Linked DNA regions of Homo sapiens: region 1 is linked to region 2. Evidence: fine-mapped expression QTL. A gene starts in region 2. The other region holds a variant in brackets. All regions are shown on one strand. Distances are between the middles of the regions. Region 1 overlaps STAU2 (staufen double-stranded RNA binding protein 2). Region 2 holds the start of STAU2 (staufen double-stranded RNA binding protein 2).

Region 1 (9,774 bases), 110 kb before region 2:
AAAGGCTAACAGTTTTGGCCTCGGGTTATGATGGTTTACTCCTGTTCACAATACAGATACGTGTATTTTAGTCACACTAAATACAAAGTGTGGCCAAAGACATTCTTTTCTGTGGACAAAATAGTTTTTGAAGATATTCTGAAATAACTCAGTCATCATGACATCCTACTATTCCCAAAGAGTGGATGTTGACATGAGTTAGTGTAGCATAGCAGAAAAAGCACGAGCTTTGATGACATATTACTCCTGGGCTGGAGGGCCAGCTCAGCCCTTTACTAGCTGTGTCACCCTATGCAAGATACATGCTGTGTCAGAACATAGTAGCCCCAGGAAATCATAGTTGTTGGCCTCTTTCCCTCTTGACAACTAATCCATCAGCCTTCTTTGATATTCTACAATGTTTCTATGAAGCTGCAGCATCTCTAAAGCTTTTGGTTATTCCCTGTAAAGAATACCCTTAGCTGTGGTTATGCTGGCAGAATCTCTAGACTTTCATTTCACACGCTCAGTGGCACCCCTAGTTTCCCATTAGCGCTTGTACCATACCCGGGAGAACATCACTTCATGCCTGTCTAGGAGATCTGACATTTGGTTCATTGGTCACTCAAGAATGCCAATCTAGGCCAGGCACAGTGGCTCACACCTATAATCCCAGCACTTTAGGAGGCCAAGGCAGGAGGATCACTTGAGGCCAGGAGTTTGAGACCAGCCTTGCCAAAATAGCAAGACTGTCTCTACAAAAAACATAAAAAATTATCTGGGCATGGTGGTACACCCTTGTAGTTCCAGCTACTCAGAAGCGGAGGCAGGAGCATTGCTTGAGCCCAGGAATTCAAGGGTACAGTGAGCTCAGCATCAAATGTACCCTTGCGGTTTGAGTACCACTGCACTCCAGCCTAGGCAATAGAGTGAGACCTCATCTCTTAAAAAAAAAAAAAAGAGGAATAAAAAATGAACACCAATGCAGTTCAAAACACCAAGCAGTGTGCAGAAGATAAGCTGATAAATTCAGATACTATAAAAACCAGTAGAAATCAACTAAATAAGCCTCTGGAAGAATTTAATGTAAAATAATAAATAACATTACTACAATTTTTAAAAATTGTAAAGGCCATTTATTTACATGTTTGGGGTTCTGTTCTACACAGACTGTTCTGTATAGACTGTTCTGTGACCTGTCAGTCAATTACAGTACAGGAGTCTAGTAACTCATTTATCTTTAAAGAAGTGCATCTTGACCAGAGAACATGAGAATGTCAACAAATCATAAGGAAATAAATAAAGCAAGTTGGTCAAGGTCCTTGTAACTGAAGCCAAGAAAAAGCCTGGGAAATTAATGAATAATAAGCTCCCAGGAAACTCAAACTGAGAAAAGCAGTAAGCCATGATGAGAATAATACCTGAGATGATTAAATATATAGTCCAAATATTACTGCCTACGATCCTAAATCTTACCCACCCGCAAAAGAGAACAGCCAAAAAGCTGAAGTTGCTCATTTTTATCTCAATGAGAGAGAGGAGGGATAAGGACGAGGCAAGAAGGGGGGAGGAGAGGGAGGGAGGGAGGGAGGAAGACAGAGGGAGGAAAGGAGAGAGAGACAGCACACGAACACGAGCAAGAGAACAAGGGCAAAAAATACTTGCTGACAGTAGGTATGATATTAAGAATATTGTATTATATTGCATTAGAAATATAGACGATTGAAAGCTGACATAAAGAACTGATTTGGATTTAGAAAAGATCAGAATATAAGATAGTTTTATTTCCATTTTAAAATGAGTATGTAAACAACTATTAAGTTCAGTACATTAAAAAAAAAAAAAGTCTTGCTGCCTTTATTGATTTGGAGAAAGCCTGCCACATACTCTTACAAAGACAGGATGTCAAGCAAACCAATAAGTCATTCAAACCCAGTGTATATAAGGTTCCTTAAGTATTTGAGGAATCAACATGGAGAATTCTGAAAATCTGAGACCCACATGGGAGTAAAGAAAGAATGCATCTTAAGCAAATTTTACTTATTGTTCTCTTTGTTATCCTGAAAAAGTCACTCAAGAGAACAAAAAAGGGTTTGCAAATAAGACCATATAATCCTATTTGCAGAGGATGACACTTCTTATGAGACTTAGAAACCTGCAATACAATCTGAGCTTATAAGACTGAGAACTCCAAAGCAGGAGAGTGATCAAGACTGACAAGAGTATGACCATGGTGATCTCTCAGGAAGCTAAAATCACCCCAGTTATGCATAAGAAATTCTGGCCAGAAACTGAACACTTCAGAGCTGGTGAACTCATGATAAAATCAAACAGATGAAGAGCTAAACTTATAATCTTAGTTGTCACTTGACTCTTGTTTAATCAAAATGTAATTCTAATATAATCAAAATAAGTATATCCTGTTACTTCTCAAATTTAGAAAGGCCAGACTCCCCTGCAAATGCTTGAGAACCCTGTATTAGACCTCATAGTTCCTCAACAAAGGGAAAAGTTTAGAGTAAATGATACGCATGCTATTCCAGGAATAGTGTTCTAGGAAGGCTACAAAAGGGACAATTTCTGCTTATACACAGGGAAAAAGGGAGTTGTATTCACTGCAGCCCTAGTGTATGGTATCCAGCATGATACCTAGCACTTAAAAGGAGTCCACTACATATCTGTTAAATGAAGGAGAGGTTATAGCTAACAATTACTGAGTGGTTTACTATATGCCGGCACTGAGCATGCAGTAACTCATCTAATCCTCACAATAGCCTGATAAGGCAAATACATATTGTTATCATTTCCATTTTACAGTTGAGGAAACTGAAAAACAGAGAAGATAAGTTGCTTGGCCTAGGCGGAACCAGGTTTCAAATGAAGATAGAGTGGCTCCACAGCACCCCCTAACCTCAATACTACATTACTATATTCCTCTCAACTTAAAAGTGAATGATTGCAAGGGAGAGACAGGACCAGCAAGGGCCAGGTTCTCAGCTATGTGGGAGTAAAGCAATCAGGACTAGCAGAAGGACAAGTTCAAAGTGAAAGGATGCATGTGAGATCTGAATGGGGAAGTGCTGGGAGTGAATGTACTTTGTGACTATAGACTCCAAGTACCTCTTAACATTGGGCATGATCTGACCTTGAGGCGGCTACAAGATGAGGATGGGCTAGATCAGTGGTTTCATCTTTGCCTATATACCGGAAGTACATGAGGAGCTTTAAAAAATACTGAGGACAAGTCAGTAAGAAAAAGACCACTGAGGCCAGGCACGGTGGCTCATGCTTGTAATCCCAACACTTTGGGAGGCCGAGGCGGCTGGATCACCTGAGGCCAGGAGTTCAAGACCAGTCTGGACAACATGGTGAAACCCCATTTCTACTAAAAATACAAAAATTAGCCAGGCGTGGTGGTGGGTGCCTGTAATCCCAGCTACTCAGGAGGCTGAGGCAGAACTGCTTGATCCCAAGAGACAGAAGTTGCAGTGAGCCGAGATCATGCCACGGAACTCCAGCCTGAGTGACAAAGCGAGACTCCATCTCAAAAAAAAGAAAAAGACTACTGAATCAGCACAAAAACTAGCACAGGTTATACACTTACAGACCACAGAAAAGGAAATATAAATGATTTTATGCATATGAGAAGATGTTTGACCTCATTCATAATCAAAGAAATGCAAATTAAAATGCCAAAGAGGTATCATTCTTCACCTAATTATATTGGTAAAAAACTCCAAAACATTCAAAACAGCCTCGTCTCTAGTCTAGATTATTGTAATAACCTCCCAACTGCTCTCTTAATCAGCAAAAC[G/A]GTTTTTATTTATTTATTTATTTATTTTTTGCTCAAAACCTGCGTTGGCCGGGGTGGGCGGATCACGAGGTCAAGAGATTGAGACCATCCTGGTCAACATGGTGAAACCCCATCTCCACTAAAAATACAAAAATTAGCTGGGTGTGGTGGCACACACCTGTAATCCCAGCTCCTTGGGAGGCTGAGGCAGGAGAATCATTTGAACCTGGGAGGCAGAAGACATAGTAAGCTGAGATTGCGCCACTGCACTCCAGCCTGGCAACAGAGTGAGACACCGTCTCAAAAAAACAAAAAATAAAAAAACCTACATTGGTTTTGCATTTCATTCATAGTAGCCAGAATCTTTACAATGGCCTACAAGGCCTTACATAAATCAGGCTCCCAGTCACATCTCTGGCTTCTTCTACCACTCACCTCTTCACTTACTCTTCTCTAGCCACACTAGTCTCCTTTCTGCTCCTCAAACTCACCATATAAGCCTCCACGTTAGGGCCTTTACAATGGCTGATCTCCTGCTTCTCCCTCAGACATCCTCAAGGCTCACTCTCTCACCTTCTTAAAGTCTTCGCTCAAATCTCACCTCTCAGCAAGACCTAATTCAAATTGTGATTCCCATCCTTTTACTCAAACAGGGCTCTATTCTTCCTATATAAGCACTTTTCACTTTCTAATCTACTATACAATGTACTTGTATTTATTTTTTATTTTCTATCTCCCCCAACTAGAATGTACACTTCATGAGGACAGAAATGTCTGTTGATGTACTCCAAGTACCCATAAGAATGTCTCACCACGTGTATGTATAAAGATACATTCTGCAACACTGATAACATCAGAAGATTCAAAACAACTAAATGTCCATGAATACAGGACTAAGAAGTTAAATAAATTACAGAGAAATCACACAGTGGGATACTAAACCGTTCTTAAATAAATAAAGCAGTAACCCTATTTCCAGTATGGCCAAGTAAACTCTCACTGAACTGATTCTCCTGCAGGAAACAATAAATTCTGAACAAACTGTAAAAAAACAATCATCTAAAGGTACCAAAAAGTCAATGAAACAGGTGGACACTGGAGGCAAGTTAACATCTGGAAAAAAAGAACAGCATAGGATGCATTTCTCTCCCTTTTTTTTCTTTTAATAGCTTGAATTTGAAGGCAAGCCCATCTATTCCATGTGAAATAGCTAAAATGCCACTGGAAAATAGTCATACTGGTTTGAAGACCCAGCGATAAGGGCTCATATTCCAAAGCCCCTGGAATATGGAGGAGGAAATATTAGAAATAAAAATCTGAGGCCGAGGGCGGTGGCTCATGCCTGTAATCCCAGCACTTTTGGAGGCCAAGGTGGGTGGATCATGAGGTCAGGAGTTTGAGACCAGCCTGGCCAATATGGTGAAACCCCATCTCTATTAAAAATTTAAAAATTAGCCAGGCATGGTGGCAGGCAACTGTAATCCCAGCTACTCGGGAGGCTGAGGCAGAAGAATTGCTTGAACCCAGGAGGCAGAGGTTGCAGTGAGCCGAGACCGCGCCACTGCACTCCAGCTTGGGCAACAGAGTAAGGCTCCGTCTAAATAAATAAATAAATAATCTGGAGAGAGAGGGAGCTTCATATTCTATGTATAAAACTGTTCGAATCTCTATCTGACCCCTGAACCACACACACACACACACACACACACACACACACACACACACACCCCTGGAACCAATTCAAAGAAATTTAGCTACGAGATTAGAATTTGAGGTGCCTGCCACCCAATGCAGAAAAGTTTTGTTGAGACCCCAGCCAACTAACTGCCTGCCTAAAAAATTTTTTTGGCCAGGCATAGTGGCTCACGCCTATAATCCTAACACCTTTGGGAGGCCAAGGCGGGAAGATTGCTTGAACCCAGGAGTTAGAGACCAGGCTGGGCAACATAGCAAAACCCCATATCTATAAAGATAAGACAACAAAACCCCATATCTACAAAAAATTAGCTGGGCATGGCAGCATGTGCCTATAGTCCTAGCTACTCAGGAGGCGGAGGTGGGGGGATCACCTGAGCCTGGGAGGTGGAGGTTGCAGTGAGCCAAGATTGCACCACTGCACTCCAGCCTGGGTGACAGAGTGAGGGCCTGTCTAAAACATACACACACACACATACACACACTTCACAGGAACATAATAGAATCTAGGTTCTACAACATATAATTTTACAATGTCCAGAATACAATCCAAAATTATTCAACATATGAAACAGGAAAAAATGATCCATTCTCAAGAGAAAAAAAACTGTAAGCAGAAAACTACCCTGAAATGACCGAGATGTTAGAATTAGCAGCAAAGGGCCGGGTGTGGTGGCTCATGCCTGTAATCCCAGCACTTTGGTAGGCTGGGGTGGGTGGGTCACTTGAGGCTATGAGTTCGAGACCAGCCTCACCAACATGGCAAAATCCTGTCTCTACTAAAAATATAAGAATTAGCCGAGTGTGGTGGCACACAGCTGTAATCCCAGCTACTCAGGAGGCTGAGGCATGAGAATCGCTTGAACCTGGGAGGCAGAGGTTACAGTGAGCCAAGATCACACCACCGCACTCCAGCCTGGGTGACAGAGGAGACTCTGTATTCAAAAAAAAAAAAAAAGGAACTAACAGCAAAGTTATACTATGTTCAAAGAGATCAAAGAAAATATGCTTTTAATGAATAAATGTATGGAGAATTTCAGCAGAGAACAGTAATTATAAAAAGTAGCCAAACAAATTCTAGAATATGATATTCAAATTTAAAATTCACTGGATAGACATAATAGCCAAAAGGAGATGACCAAGGAATTAAGATTAATCAACAGAAATTATACTACCTAACTATTAGAAAAAAAGAAGTTAAAAAAATGAACTGAAGCTTAGGGACCTGTTAGACAAAATTAAAAATAATTAAAATTAAAAAAAAGGTCTAACAGAAGGAGAGGAGGAAAAGGGGGGAACAGAAAAATATTAAAAGACCTAAGACCCAAAAATTTCCTTTGGTAAAAGGCATATTTACATATTCAAGAAGCTCAGTGAACTAGATTAATATAAAGAAAACCACACAAGATATGTTATAGTTTAACTGCTAAAAGCTAAAAAGACATATTATTTATGGGGAGCAACAATTCAAATGATGGATGACTTCTCAAGAGAAAAAATCTGAGGCCAGGAGACAAGTGGAACAACATCTTTAAAGTCTTTATAAAGTGCTGAAAGTAAAAAAAAAAAAAAAAAAAAAAAAAAAAGAAAAGAAAAAAAAGAAAAACTGTCAACTCCGAATTCTATATTCAATGAAAATATCTTCAAAACTGAAGGCAAAATAAAGATGTTTTCAGTAAACAAAAATTCAGAGAAATCATTGCCAGAAGACCTGCACTACAGGAAATACTAAAGGGTGTTCAAACTGAAGAGAAGTAAAGCCAGACAGAAATCTGGATCTTCAGAGAAAACAAAAACAAAAACAAACACAAACACAAAAACAAAACAAAAAAAGGGAAATGATAGATATGTGGGCAAATAAATTCAAGACCTTTTTCTCTTAATTTCTTTAAGATATAGACTAAAGCAAAAAATCATAACATTGTGGAAGTTATGATCTATATAAATGTAATACAAATGACATCTATATATGGGGTGGGAGTTAAATAGACCTATATGGTTGCAGGGTTTCTAAAATTTTCATAATCAGTTTAGAAAAAATAATGCAGCTTCTTACATACTGACATGGAATGCTGTTTAAGGTATTTTTCAAAGGAAAAAAAAACAGATTCGGAATACTATTACAGAATGATACTTTCTTAAAGTAAATACATATACATATACATATCCAGAGAATATCCTGAAAGGATAATACATGAAACTGGCAGGGGCAGGGGCAAAATTGGGTAACTGGAATGCAGGGGTGGCATAGTATTTACATTAATATTTGAATTTTTTATATTTTATACTGTATAAAATAAATACAAAAAATTAAATACCCACAAAAATAAAAAAGTAAAGGCTCTGAGAACTTCTACAATAAGAAAACGTTTAAATTTTCCTTGATCCAGCATTTTACAAACCTATATGACTATAGGAAACTGACTCCTCTCCCTTTTTCAAATAATAGCTATTTCTATCCCAACAGTGACTGTGTATTGCTTACACCATATTAAAAAACACTTATTTTTTTAAATCAATTTTTTACTAGTTGTACCAACTAAATCTAGTAAGAATATAACCCAGGTCATTTGAAATATTCTTTTTTTTTTTTTTTTTTAAAAAGAGTCCATCAGAGTAACTTCAAATATAATTGCAATTTCACTGGCAGTCTAATAAAATTCCACCCACTAAAGTTCTAGACTTAATATTTTCCAAGACATTCTTAAATTCAGTCACTGTCCCATGCTTACCTGTTTTTAAAAACTCATTAGGTACCTCTGTTATTACTGTCCAAACTGAATGATATCAACTATTTCTGAAAACATAAAAAATTGCTTGTTGAACATACAAATGATTCCATAAGAAGATGCCACAATATATTTTAGTTGCTAAAGATTAATATGAAATGATCACATGACCTGAGTCATATTCTTACTAGATTTAGTTGGTACAAGTAGTAAAAAATTGATTTAAAAAAATGTGTTTTTTAATATGGTGTAAGCAATACCAGTCAGTGTTGCAACAGAAATAGTTGATTAATATGAAATGATATCAACTATTTCTGAAAACATAAAAAACTGCTTGTTGAACATACAAATGATTCCATAAGAAGATGCCACAATATATTTTAGTTGCTAAAGATTAATATGAAATATAACCATTATTTTGATACAAAAAAGAAAAACAAACCCACAAATTCTTGTTAAAGTTCAACAGATATTATTTAAATTGTAGTATCTTGTTTTTAACAATTTAACAGTTTAATAGTGAAAATTTTTTCTATGATACATTAATTTCACTGGTTCGAGTTTCTAAATCCACTTGAAAATTTTCTTTAATAGTATATTTTATTCAATTTATCTTTGTACCTACACTAACAAAGGAAAAAGAATACAATTTGTGAATACCCAGAAATTCCTTAATCATGGAGAATGTATACAATTGTTTCTATGCTCTTTGAAGGGAGGACATGATCCTAGTTTCATTTGTGCTAACAAGGAGAATTTATTACCAAAACATCTGGGAGATGAATGAGATGCTAAAACGAAAGACATGGAAGCCTAGCAACATATTCTAGTCTAGCTAACCCTTCCTAAGAAAAAAAGATAGTACTAATAGTAAGGTGCTAATGAGCCGTACTTGGTACCCTCATGCTCGACAACCTTCTCAGATCACTCAGGTTGAAAATAAACTTCTGTATTACAACTGAAACTAAAAATTACACTGAAAAGGACGTGTTTAGCACCGTAGAGGCTCCTACATATTTAAAGCTACTTCTTTAAAATTCCATGTTTTAGATGTTTGAACAAGACATCAATAATTCCATTATCCTTGTTCTGGTTTGATATTATTTTTATCTCTCCCAAACCATAAAATTTGCAAAAGAAAAAATTCAACTGCAAAATTATTCAATATTTGGAAACGAAAATTTAACAAACCCTCTTAAGAACCAATAAAAGCTATCAAATAGAATACAAATAGATACATAAAATTTTATACACTGGTAACAGCATTCAAATCAAAGAGGTGAAGTATTCTAAGAATATTTACTCCAGTTGTGTTAGGAACAAACTAAATTATGACTTCCTCGGGCCAACTAAATCCAGTAAGAATAACATTCTGTTGCTAATATGATCATATGAAATAATTATTTTTAAAAAGAACTTAGCCTATCAAAGTCAACTTCAAATATAAAAAGTGTTCCCCATCAATCAACTGTATAGAAACAATATAAAATTATTCAAGATTTATTTTACAAAGATACTTCTCAAACCCAAGTGCTTCCTATAATAATACACATCATATACTGTTTACTGATCAATAGG
Region 2 (9,774 bases):
CATGAAACTAATGTCTATAACAGCACTCTGTAATTGGCTAACATTCTGAAAATTATACTTTTTTAAGCAAACCAGTTATTTTAGATTTACATCAATTTAAAAATTGTAGTTTGTAATTATACCATGGACAATTCAGAATGTTCACAGTGGCACGTCTTTAAGACTCTGTTTCTACTTTAAAGACACGCCCAGTCTACTGTCACATATTTTAAACAATTTGCTAAAATATCAAGACATATCAATAAAATGCAGAGCAGTTTTATACTACCTTTGGTTTCATAAAATCCACCTCCTCAGCTGGGTGTGGTGGCTCACGCCTGTAATCCCAGCACTTTTGGAGTCTGAGGCGGACGGATCACCTGAGGTCAGGAGTTCGAGACTAGCCTGGCGAACACGGCAAAATCGTCTCTACTAAAAATACAAAAATTAGCCAGGCATGGAGGCACGCACCTGTAGTCCAGGTACTCAGGAGGCTGAGGCAGGTGAATCGCTTGAACCCAGGAGGCGGAGGCTGCAGTGAGTGGAGATTGCGCCACTGCACTCTAGCCTGGGTGACAGAGTAAGACTCCATCTCAAAAAATAAAAATAATTAAAAAAAAAATCCACCTCCTCTATCACAAAAGTTTCCAGCTACAGTTGATTCCAATTACAACTAAGCGCTTTTAGAGAAATGTATCCATGCGTCCCAAAAATGCCCTATCTGGTCAGGCATATGAAGACAGGCAATTCTAGATTCCAAACTACTAAATGAAAACAAGCAGGATTATAGGGAGACGGCTGGGGAAGACGTGATGCTCATGAAGAATGGCCCAACCTGTAACTGCAATGTACTGCTGATATAAGTCGTACTTTAATTATGAATTACATTTTGCCCATCTGAGAAATTAAAAGCTGCACAGAAATCTATATAATCCCCAATAATTAAACTGCTTTATAAAACGGCACTGTTACTAAATATGTATAAATTTTTTATATCAGCACCCATCCTACAGTTGATAGGCAATTCTCACTTAAATGTCTTATTTGACAACATGAAAAGCAAAAAAAATTTACTATCTCTACTCTTAGACTACAAACTGCTACAAAACTATCAATTCAATGCTTATTACTCTAAAAAAGATATACGGTCCTTTAAAGAGCTTTTTAAAATGTTTTTCATTTTGATTTTTCAAAGTGGGTACCCAAAAACACTGCTTTTATGTAAGGAAAACAGAAGTCTTACGCCACAAACTATTCTAGTGGAAAACTCTAAATAACACAGGCCAGAAAAAAAAAAAAGGAAACTAACATTTTTCAGACACCAATTGTATACGCTAGGTGCCACATTTTGCCATTTTTACATCAACTCATTTAATCCTCATCATCTTGGGATGTAGGCATTATCTCCATTTTTCTAGAGGTTGGGTTATTTGCCTACAGTCACATTGCTAGGTTTAGAACGGTTCATTCTGGCCCAAAGTCGTCTTTTCTTCACTATACACCAAATTAAAAAAGACTTGCCTTCTTTTTAATTTTTTTTTTTTTTTTTTTTTTTGAGACGGAGTTCCACTCTTGCTGCCCAGGCTGGAGTGCAATGGGCACCATGTCGGCTCACCGCAAGATCCGCCTCCTGGTTTCAAATGATTCTCCTGCCTCAGCCTCCTGAGTAGCTGCGATTACAGGCATGCGCCACCACGGCCGGCTAATTTTACATTTTTAGTAGAGACGGGGTTTCTCCATGTTCGTCAGGCTGGTCTCGAACCCCCAACCCTCAGGTGATTCACCCACCTCGGCCTCCCAAAGTGCTGGGATTACAAGCATGAGCCACCATGCCCGGACATTTTTTTTTTTTTTTGAGACTGAGTCTCACTCTGTCACCCAGGCTGGAGTGCAATGGCGCCATCTCAGCTCACTGCAACCTCTGCCTCCCGGGTTCAAGCGATTCTCCTGCCTCAGCCTCCCGAGTAGCTGGGATTACAGGCGCGCACCACCACACCCAGCTAATTTTTGTATTTTTAGTAGAGACGGGGTTTCACCATGTTGGCCAGGCTGGTCTCGAACTCCTGACCTCCTGATCCACCTGCCTCGGCCTCCCAAAGTGCTGGGATTACAGGCATGAGCCACCCCACCTGGCCAATTTTTTTTATTTTCTATGATCAGCTTGGTGAAAAATAAAAGATTTGCCTTCTTATAATTTTTCCTGGAACAAAGTCAAGGGCTTGACCTCTAGGACAACATAATGGCAAAGCTCCTATATAGAACTTGGGGAGGATTATTTAAAATCAAACGATGCACACATAAATAAAAATGATAATTATTACTGATTCTAGACATCTAGTATTTTGTGTACCTATAAGAGGCACAAATATATCTATATGTGAATAATCATACTGTGCGTGTCTCAAACTATGCAGTCTAAGAGAATTCAATTTTGCAGTATCTAGAGTTTTCCCTCTTTATTATGATCTGTACCTATAAATGATCAGATTCCCAGCACTGAACGTGCACAAAACAAGATAATAATAGGAATAAAGAGAAGGGTAGGCACAAAGGAAAAAAAAAAAAAAACCTACCATATCTTCTAGAACCTAAACAGGAAAACCGCTCTGCCTCGATTTCTGGATTGTTTGTATATTTAAAAGCTTGATGACTATCTTAGATTTTTTTTATATTCATACTATTTGTTGAAAAGCAAACCAAGCCACTCTTCCTAGCACTTCATTCCAGACAAGCCAAGTAAGCTAAAATGTAAAATTTGCATGGTTTTCCAAGCTCAAGTATTTAGGAGTTAAGGATCACAATGTATGTAACTTACCCTTAAATGGTCCAGGGGAAAAATATTTTGTGTGTGATAGAGAGCAAATAATAAATACATAAAATGTTAACAGGTGAATCTGAATAAAGGTTACAAAGATTTTCTTTGTATTATTCTTATTCTTGCCATTTGTCTGTAAGCTTGAAATTATTTCCAAATAAAGTTAAAATTTAAAAATTACACAGCATTTTATTTGAAATTAACAATACATACTTGGATTACACAGCAACATTCTTACAAATACAAAACACTGGTTTTTATGGGGAAAAATGCAGTAATTTGTGAGCAAGTATGTACCATATCCTACCAACTTATCATCACTTAGGAATAAATTTCAGACTAGCCTACCATATAATAAAATATGGCAATAGTGACTTGACTTGAAACCATAGCAGGAAAACACAAACACACCAGATAGTTTGGCATAACTGCTTCGCAAATTTAATACAGGCCTGCTGCAAAATGCAGCAATCTACAATTAAAGTGTTATGTGATATCTCTTGTTTGCAGTAAGATACAAACTGAACAATGAAAATCTGGCCATACTACAAAACAGAGATGGAGAGTAAGTCTTGGTTTTGGTAGTTTTATTAAATAAGATTTTTCCACCGCAGCTGAGTTCACAACAGTGTACTTGAATCATCTAAAGAAAGCAAGGACGGGGAAGAAATATCCTGGAGAAATGTTGAAATCTTTTCTCCTCCAAGGTTACTATCACCCTGCCTGTCCATCACAATTTTGATTTCAAGTATTCACGATGCTGGTCTGAAACACAGGATGCATCAGAAGCCAAGTAATGCTCAGCAAAAGTTCACCAAAATTGTGAAAGCAAACATTAAATAAAAAACGTTTTCAATTAACAGTAAAATATCTTTAAAGGATCATCTCTAGCCTTTCTTTCTGCAGGATCCACCCACTTTAAAATCCTTTGGTAAATTCCCAGGTCTACCCTAATTGAATGGTCCCTCTCTATCTGCTCAAGCAGTTCTTAACCCTTTGGAGTGGGGATGGGGGTAAGGGGACATCACAGCAAATATGGACCCTTACCAAAGAAAATTATTCACAAATGCAAAATTCTACACACATTTCCAAAGACTTCCAGAATCCCACGGCCATTACCCCCACCGCCTCCCTAAGAATCCCAGAGTGGCGTGCTTCTCAATGGCCTCTGCGGAGCACCCCCAGCCCCCAAGCCACAGCCCCCGGCTCGACCCCGAAGAGACTAGAGTTCCTGCTCTCACACAGCGGATTCCGTAACTGAGCTTTGTCTCCTCGCCCAACTCCCTTCACCCCGGCAAGGTCACTACCGCCAACTACCCCTTTAAGCCGAGCCATCACGGTAGGAGTTCGTAACAGCCACAGCAGAACTTGCCTGTCATAGGATATATTTTGTCCCCTCGGCCCCACCTACCCTCCCCATTTCGGCAAGTTACGTCTTTACCACTAGCCCATTCTACAGAAATAGCTGCCGCCGCCACCCTCCGGCGCGCCCCGGCCCCGCCGCTCCGCCTCCAGCGCCCCCAGGCCCATTTCCCGCAGACCCTCCCCGGGCCGCCCTCCCCTGCCCTACTCTAGGCGCTCCCTCTCCCTCGCAGCCACACCGTGGCTGCACTCGCCGTCCTCTCTTCCGGCCGCTACCACCCCGGCCCCCTAGAACCCCAGCCTCCCGCGCCCGCAGCCGCGTTCCTGTCTCCCCGACCTCCGCACCCCCACTTGGCCCGGCCTCCTCGCCTTCCTCCCGGCTCCTCCCCTCAGGACACCTGTGTCGTCCCACCCCCTCCACCACACACGCACCCCCCACCCCAATTCCTTCGCCTCCCTGTCCTCCCTCCCCCGCCGGTCTCCCCTCCCCGCTGCTGCCCCGAGAGCCCGATGTGGGAGGGAAGGCGCGGGGGAGGGGAGGCCGCGAAGGGGGCTGCTTTTCTCCGGGTTCCCCGTGCTGCGGAACTGCAGGGCTCCCCAGCGCCCTCTGCCTTCTTCGCCGGCGGCGCGGAAGTCGGGGTCTCCCGGACGCCCCCGATGAGGGTATTTACCTTCTTGCCGGGGACACTTTGCAGACGGCTCCAACATTGGCAAACACTACAGAGAACTGACCCCGCTCGGCCGCCGCCGGCTTCCACCCCTCGGGCTCCCCGCCCCCCGCCTCCGCCCGCCTCCGCCCGCCTCCCCGGCGCTCCCGCCGCGCCCTCCCGCGCTCGCGCCGCGCGCCCCCGCCTGCGCAGCCGCTCCCGCGCCCCAGCACGCCCGGCCGGCGCGCGCGCCCGGCACCGGCTCTACCTCCACTCCGCCTCCCGCCGGCCCGCGACCAAGCGCGGCCATTGTTCGCGACGCAGCTCCCGCCCCCTGGCGGCTGCCGGGCCCCAGCAGCTGCAGGCTCTGCGGGGCTAGCGGCGGCGAGCTGGGCCCCTGGGCGAGGGCCATTCCCGGGGGGCTTGGGCACGCGGGCGAGCGACTGCGCAAGGAGCGCGCCCGGTCCGCAGTCTCCTCGTCCCCGGCGCGACTCCCCGCCCCCTCGTCTGCCAAGGGTGGGCCTGGGGCAGCCCCTTCCACACCTGCAACTCGGCAACTTCCTTCCCCGCCCGACTGACCGTCTGCTCTTTCTGGTCCGCACCCTGTGCTCTGATTCCCCGCTCGTACCTTTCCCAGGCTCTCCGGCTGCCCCTCTGTGCTGTGCAGGGGACGCGCGACCATCCCGCGTCTGCTCCGGCCGCCGCTGTGCAACGCACGGTTTAGCGGATCTTGCACCTTTCTAGACGGGGGAGGGGGCGGGGAGGAGGTTGCTTCACCGTCTCGCCCAGCAAACACCAGGGATCCGTGATCACCTGCTCGCCAAGACCCGCGGCGTGGCCAGACCTCCTCTTCTACCGAAAATATTAGTCACATGAAAAAGAATCCTTGGAGCCAAAAATGAGAACCATTGAAAACAATGCCCTGAATCCTAGATTTATGAGGCAAGAGTGCCAGAAAACAGAAATTACGTCTTAATTCGTCCTGGTTTTGATGTGGATTACTTTTGTCTAGATAACTTCAACCCAGTTAAGCTCAATGAAACTGAACACTTCGTTTAGTAACCGGCACCAAAAATAATCTGACAAAGAAATTTCGAAATAGAACTATTAGTGTGTTTTCACAAACTTACTCGTTTGCAACGTTATTTCTAGGGTTTCTTCCCAGTGTCACTTCTCTGACTGAGAAATGTCTCCCAGGCCGGTGATTTCAGTCATCATCTAAAACCAATCTCATGTCTGCACCTGGGAAGGTAGTGTGTGTCCTGGTTAACCGCAAGGGCGCCAGAGTCAGATAACCAAGGCTGGATATCCGCTTGCTAACTGGTGAGGAGACCACGGGCATGTTACTTATCCTGTGCATCAAGAGGAGACTACATGTGATAGATAGTTCGTATTTAAATGTGACAATACATATGAAGCCCTTTAAATAGGACCGGGTATGTAGTACCTCTCCTGGTACAATGTTAGCTACAGCTATATTTTTCCTCCCAGAACTCTTTCCTATGCTCCTTTCCCCCCTTTTCACCTCTGCCAGTTCCCTCGGATTTAACATGTTGCATCCTCCCTAAATTTGCTGTGCTCCTTCTAGCGGCTTACGCACCCAGTCAGCATTCTAATACAGTCATGCCTTACCTAGCCACAAGGATATGTTCTGAGGAACGTGTCATTAAGCGATTTTTGTTGTTTTGCGCACATCATAGCGTGTTCTTACGCAAACCTAGGTAGTCTAGCCAACTACTTGCTTTGGCTATATGGTATATAGCTATTGCGCCTAGGCTGCAAACCTGTACAGTGTGTTACTGTACTAATACTGTAGGCAATTTTGCAACACAAGGGTATTTGTACCTAAACAGAAAACCTACAGTAAAAGAACTATATAATCTTTTTTTTTTTTGAGACGAAGTCTCGCTCTGTCACCCAGGCTGAAATGCAGTAGCACAATCTCAGCTCACTGCAACCTCCACCTCCCGAGTTCAAGCAATTTTCCTGCCTCAGCCTCCCTGGTAGCTGGGATTACAGGCACATGCCACCACGTCCAGCTAATTTTTGTATTTTTAGTAGAGACGGGGTTTGACCATGTTGGCCACGCTGGTCTCGAACTCTTGACCTCAAGTGATTCCCCGCCGGCCCCCCCCCCCCCCGCCCCTCCCCACCACCTCGGCCTCCCAAAGTGCTGGGATTGCAGGCGCCCGGCTTAAAGAACTGTATAATCTTATGGGACCACCGTTGTATATGCAGTCCACCTGTCCATCATTGACTGAAAGAAGTTGACCAGAAATTGTTGAATATTTTGAATGAATACCTTACTTTCCCACCAGCCATACCAAGGGTCAAGCTGCCTACCTCTGTGTCTTTCCATAGGCTATTCTCTCTCCCTTCAGGCTACCCTTCTCTCGCCTGGTGAACAAATAATCTTTCACGGCATTCAAAAATCACCTTCTTGGCCGGGTGTGGTGGCTCACACCTGTAACCTCAGCACTTCGGGAGGCCGAAGCGGGCAGACCACGAGGTCACGAGTTTGAGACCAGCCTGGCCAACATGGTGAAACTCCATCTCTACTAAAAATACAAAAATTAGCTGGGCGTGGTGGCACACACCTGTAATCCCAGCTACTTGGGAGGCTGAGGCAGGAGAATTGCTTGAACTCGGGAGGCAGAGGTTGCAGTGAGCTGAGTTCGAGCCACTGCACTCTAGCCTGGGCAGCAGAGCAAGACTCCATCTCAAGAAAAAAAAGAAAAAAAATCACCTCCTTGAGAGGCATTCTCTAACACTCCTCTGAGCAGGCGAGTGCTCTTCTCTTGTACCTCTCTTCTCTGATATTGTAGGTATGTTAGAATTTTTTTTTTTAGCCTGTCTGTATCTACCAAACATTGCATTGTTGAAGGGCAGGCTCTGTGTCTCATGCATATCTGTAGTCCCAGCATCCAACAGCAAGTAGGTGGACGGTAAATCCTTTGGTATAAATGGATGAGTTTATACTTTTGGAAAGAACTCTGGGGTGGTCAGATTTCATTCTCTTTGATTCAGATCCTTAAAGTTAATTGAAAACTTTATCCCTCCCGTAACTGTTCCTCATAACTGATTTTCAGTCATTGGTAAACCCCAAATAGAATGAATTTTTCTAAGTCACAATTATCAGAAAGGAAATTGTTTTTTAATTGAATCAGCACTTTCAGTTGCTCAAGGTATATAGTATCAGTACATGAAATCACCTGAGTGACATGGAAATCCACACATCACTCTACAATCATTTTAGGATTTACTTTAAAATAAAATATTTGTATAGGAGTTGAAAATAATGAATATTTAAAGAGCGGTGGGCCAGCCGGCTGTGGTGGCTCACGTCTATAATCCCAGCACTTTGGGAGGCTAGCGTATCACCTGAAGTCAGGAGTTCGAGACCAGCCTGGGCAAAATGGCAAAAACCCCATCTCTACTAAAATTAGAAAAACTACCTGGGCGTGGTGGTGCGTGCTTGTAGTCCCAGCTACTCAGGAGGCTGAGGTGGGAGGATCACTTGAGCCTGGGAGGCAGAGGTTGGAGTGAGCTGAGATCACACTACTGCACTCCAGCCAGGGCCACAAAGAAAGACCCTGTATCAAAAAATATAAATAAATAAAGAACAGTGGGCCTATTAATAGGCAGCTGATTAAAGCAAATGAGGCCAGGCGCAGTGGCTCATGCCTGTAATCCCAGCACTTTGAAAAGCCAAAGAGGGAGGATCTCTTGAAACCAGGGGTTTGAAACCAGCGTGGGCAGTAAAGTGAGACCCCACCTCCATTTAATTAAAAATAAATTTAAAATTAAATTTTTTTTTAAAAAGCGTCTGTTTTATCAACACATTTTTACCAGTCACCATTGCAGTGAAATGTTCAAGCATCAGGAAAAAGATAATGCTTTCAAATTCACCATTATCGGATTTGAGCAGTTTGAATGGGACAGATTCCAGAATCACAAACTCCAGTTTCCTTCTATGTCCTCTTCTTTCTTATATTATATCTTATATTATGATGCCCTTTTCTTGACATTTATTTTCCTGTAAAATTCATCTAGCCCCCAGCACCCACCATAGAAGTTACCCTCCTTTATTGATGATATCTGAATTTTTTTAAATTCTTTTTTTGAGACAGAGTTCTTGCTCTCGCCCAGGTTAGAGTACAGTGGTACAATCTTGGTTCACTGCAACCTCTGCCTGCAGGGTGCAAGCGATTCTCATGCCTCAGCCTTCTGAGTAGCTGGGATTACAGGCATGTGCCATCAGGCTTGGCTAATTTTTGTATTTTTGGTAGAGACAGTTTGTTTTGCCATGTTGCCCAGACTGGTCTTGAACTCCGGGCCTCAAGTTATCTGCCCTCCTCGGCCTCCCAAAGTGCTGGCATTACAGGAATGAGCCACTGCATGGCCCTGAATTTATTTTTATCACTACACACTATTTATGTGTTTCTTCTACTATATCTTAAGCTCCTTGAAGGCAACAACAATGACTTTCTCTTCTTTGTTTCTCTGGGACTTAGCACAGTGCTCACTAAATGCTTGTCAAATGAAGGGATTAGCAAATTTGACCAACATTTACTGAATACCCACTATGGGCCAAGTACTATTCTTGGCCTAGGGATGTGTAGCAACGAAAAAAATCTGCAAAATCTTTGTCCTCATGGAACTTACAGGGGAATGAATGAATAACAAATGCATGAAATAAGCACTTCCAAACACTGTACTTTATTAGAATAGCATTCTGAGGCCGGGCGCGGTGGCTCACGCCTGTAATCCCAGCACTTTAGGAGGCCGAGGCAGGCAGATCATGAGGTCAAGAGATCGAGACTGTCCTGGCCAACATGGTGAAACCCTGTCTCTACCAAAAATACAAAAAAATTAGCCAGGCGTGGTGGCACACGCCTGTAGTCCCAGCTACTTGGGAGGTTGAGGCAAGAGAATCGCTTGAACCCGTGAGGCGGAGTTTGCAGTGAGCTG

What was found.
Region 1: its variant is fine-mapped to the expression of STAU2 in whole blood (TOPMed, PIP above 0.99).

The regions. Positions count from the first base shown.
Region 1 is chr8:73,630,453-73,640,226 of GRCh38, forward strand. All of the region lies in intron 6 of STAU2 (staufen double-stranded RNA binding protein 2), which reads right to left. Among named protein-coding and RNA genes, the nearest start is that of STAU2, 110 kb to the right of the region's middle. The variant G/A (reference allele first, on the strand shown) is at 3,794.
Region 2 is chr8:73,741,956-73,751,729 of GRCh38, forward strand. It overlaps STAU2 (staufen double-stranded RNA binding protein 2), which reads right to left and starts at 4,885. Exons shown (of 15, transcript NM_001164380.2): 1 at 4,828-4,885. RefSeq lists silencers at 4,288-4,347, 4,458-4,637, 4,928-5,017, 5,098-5,387.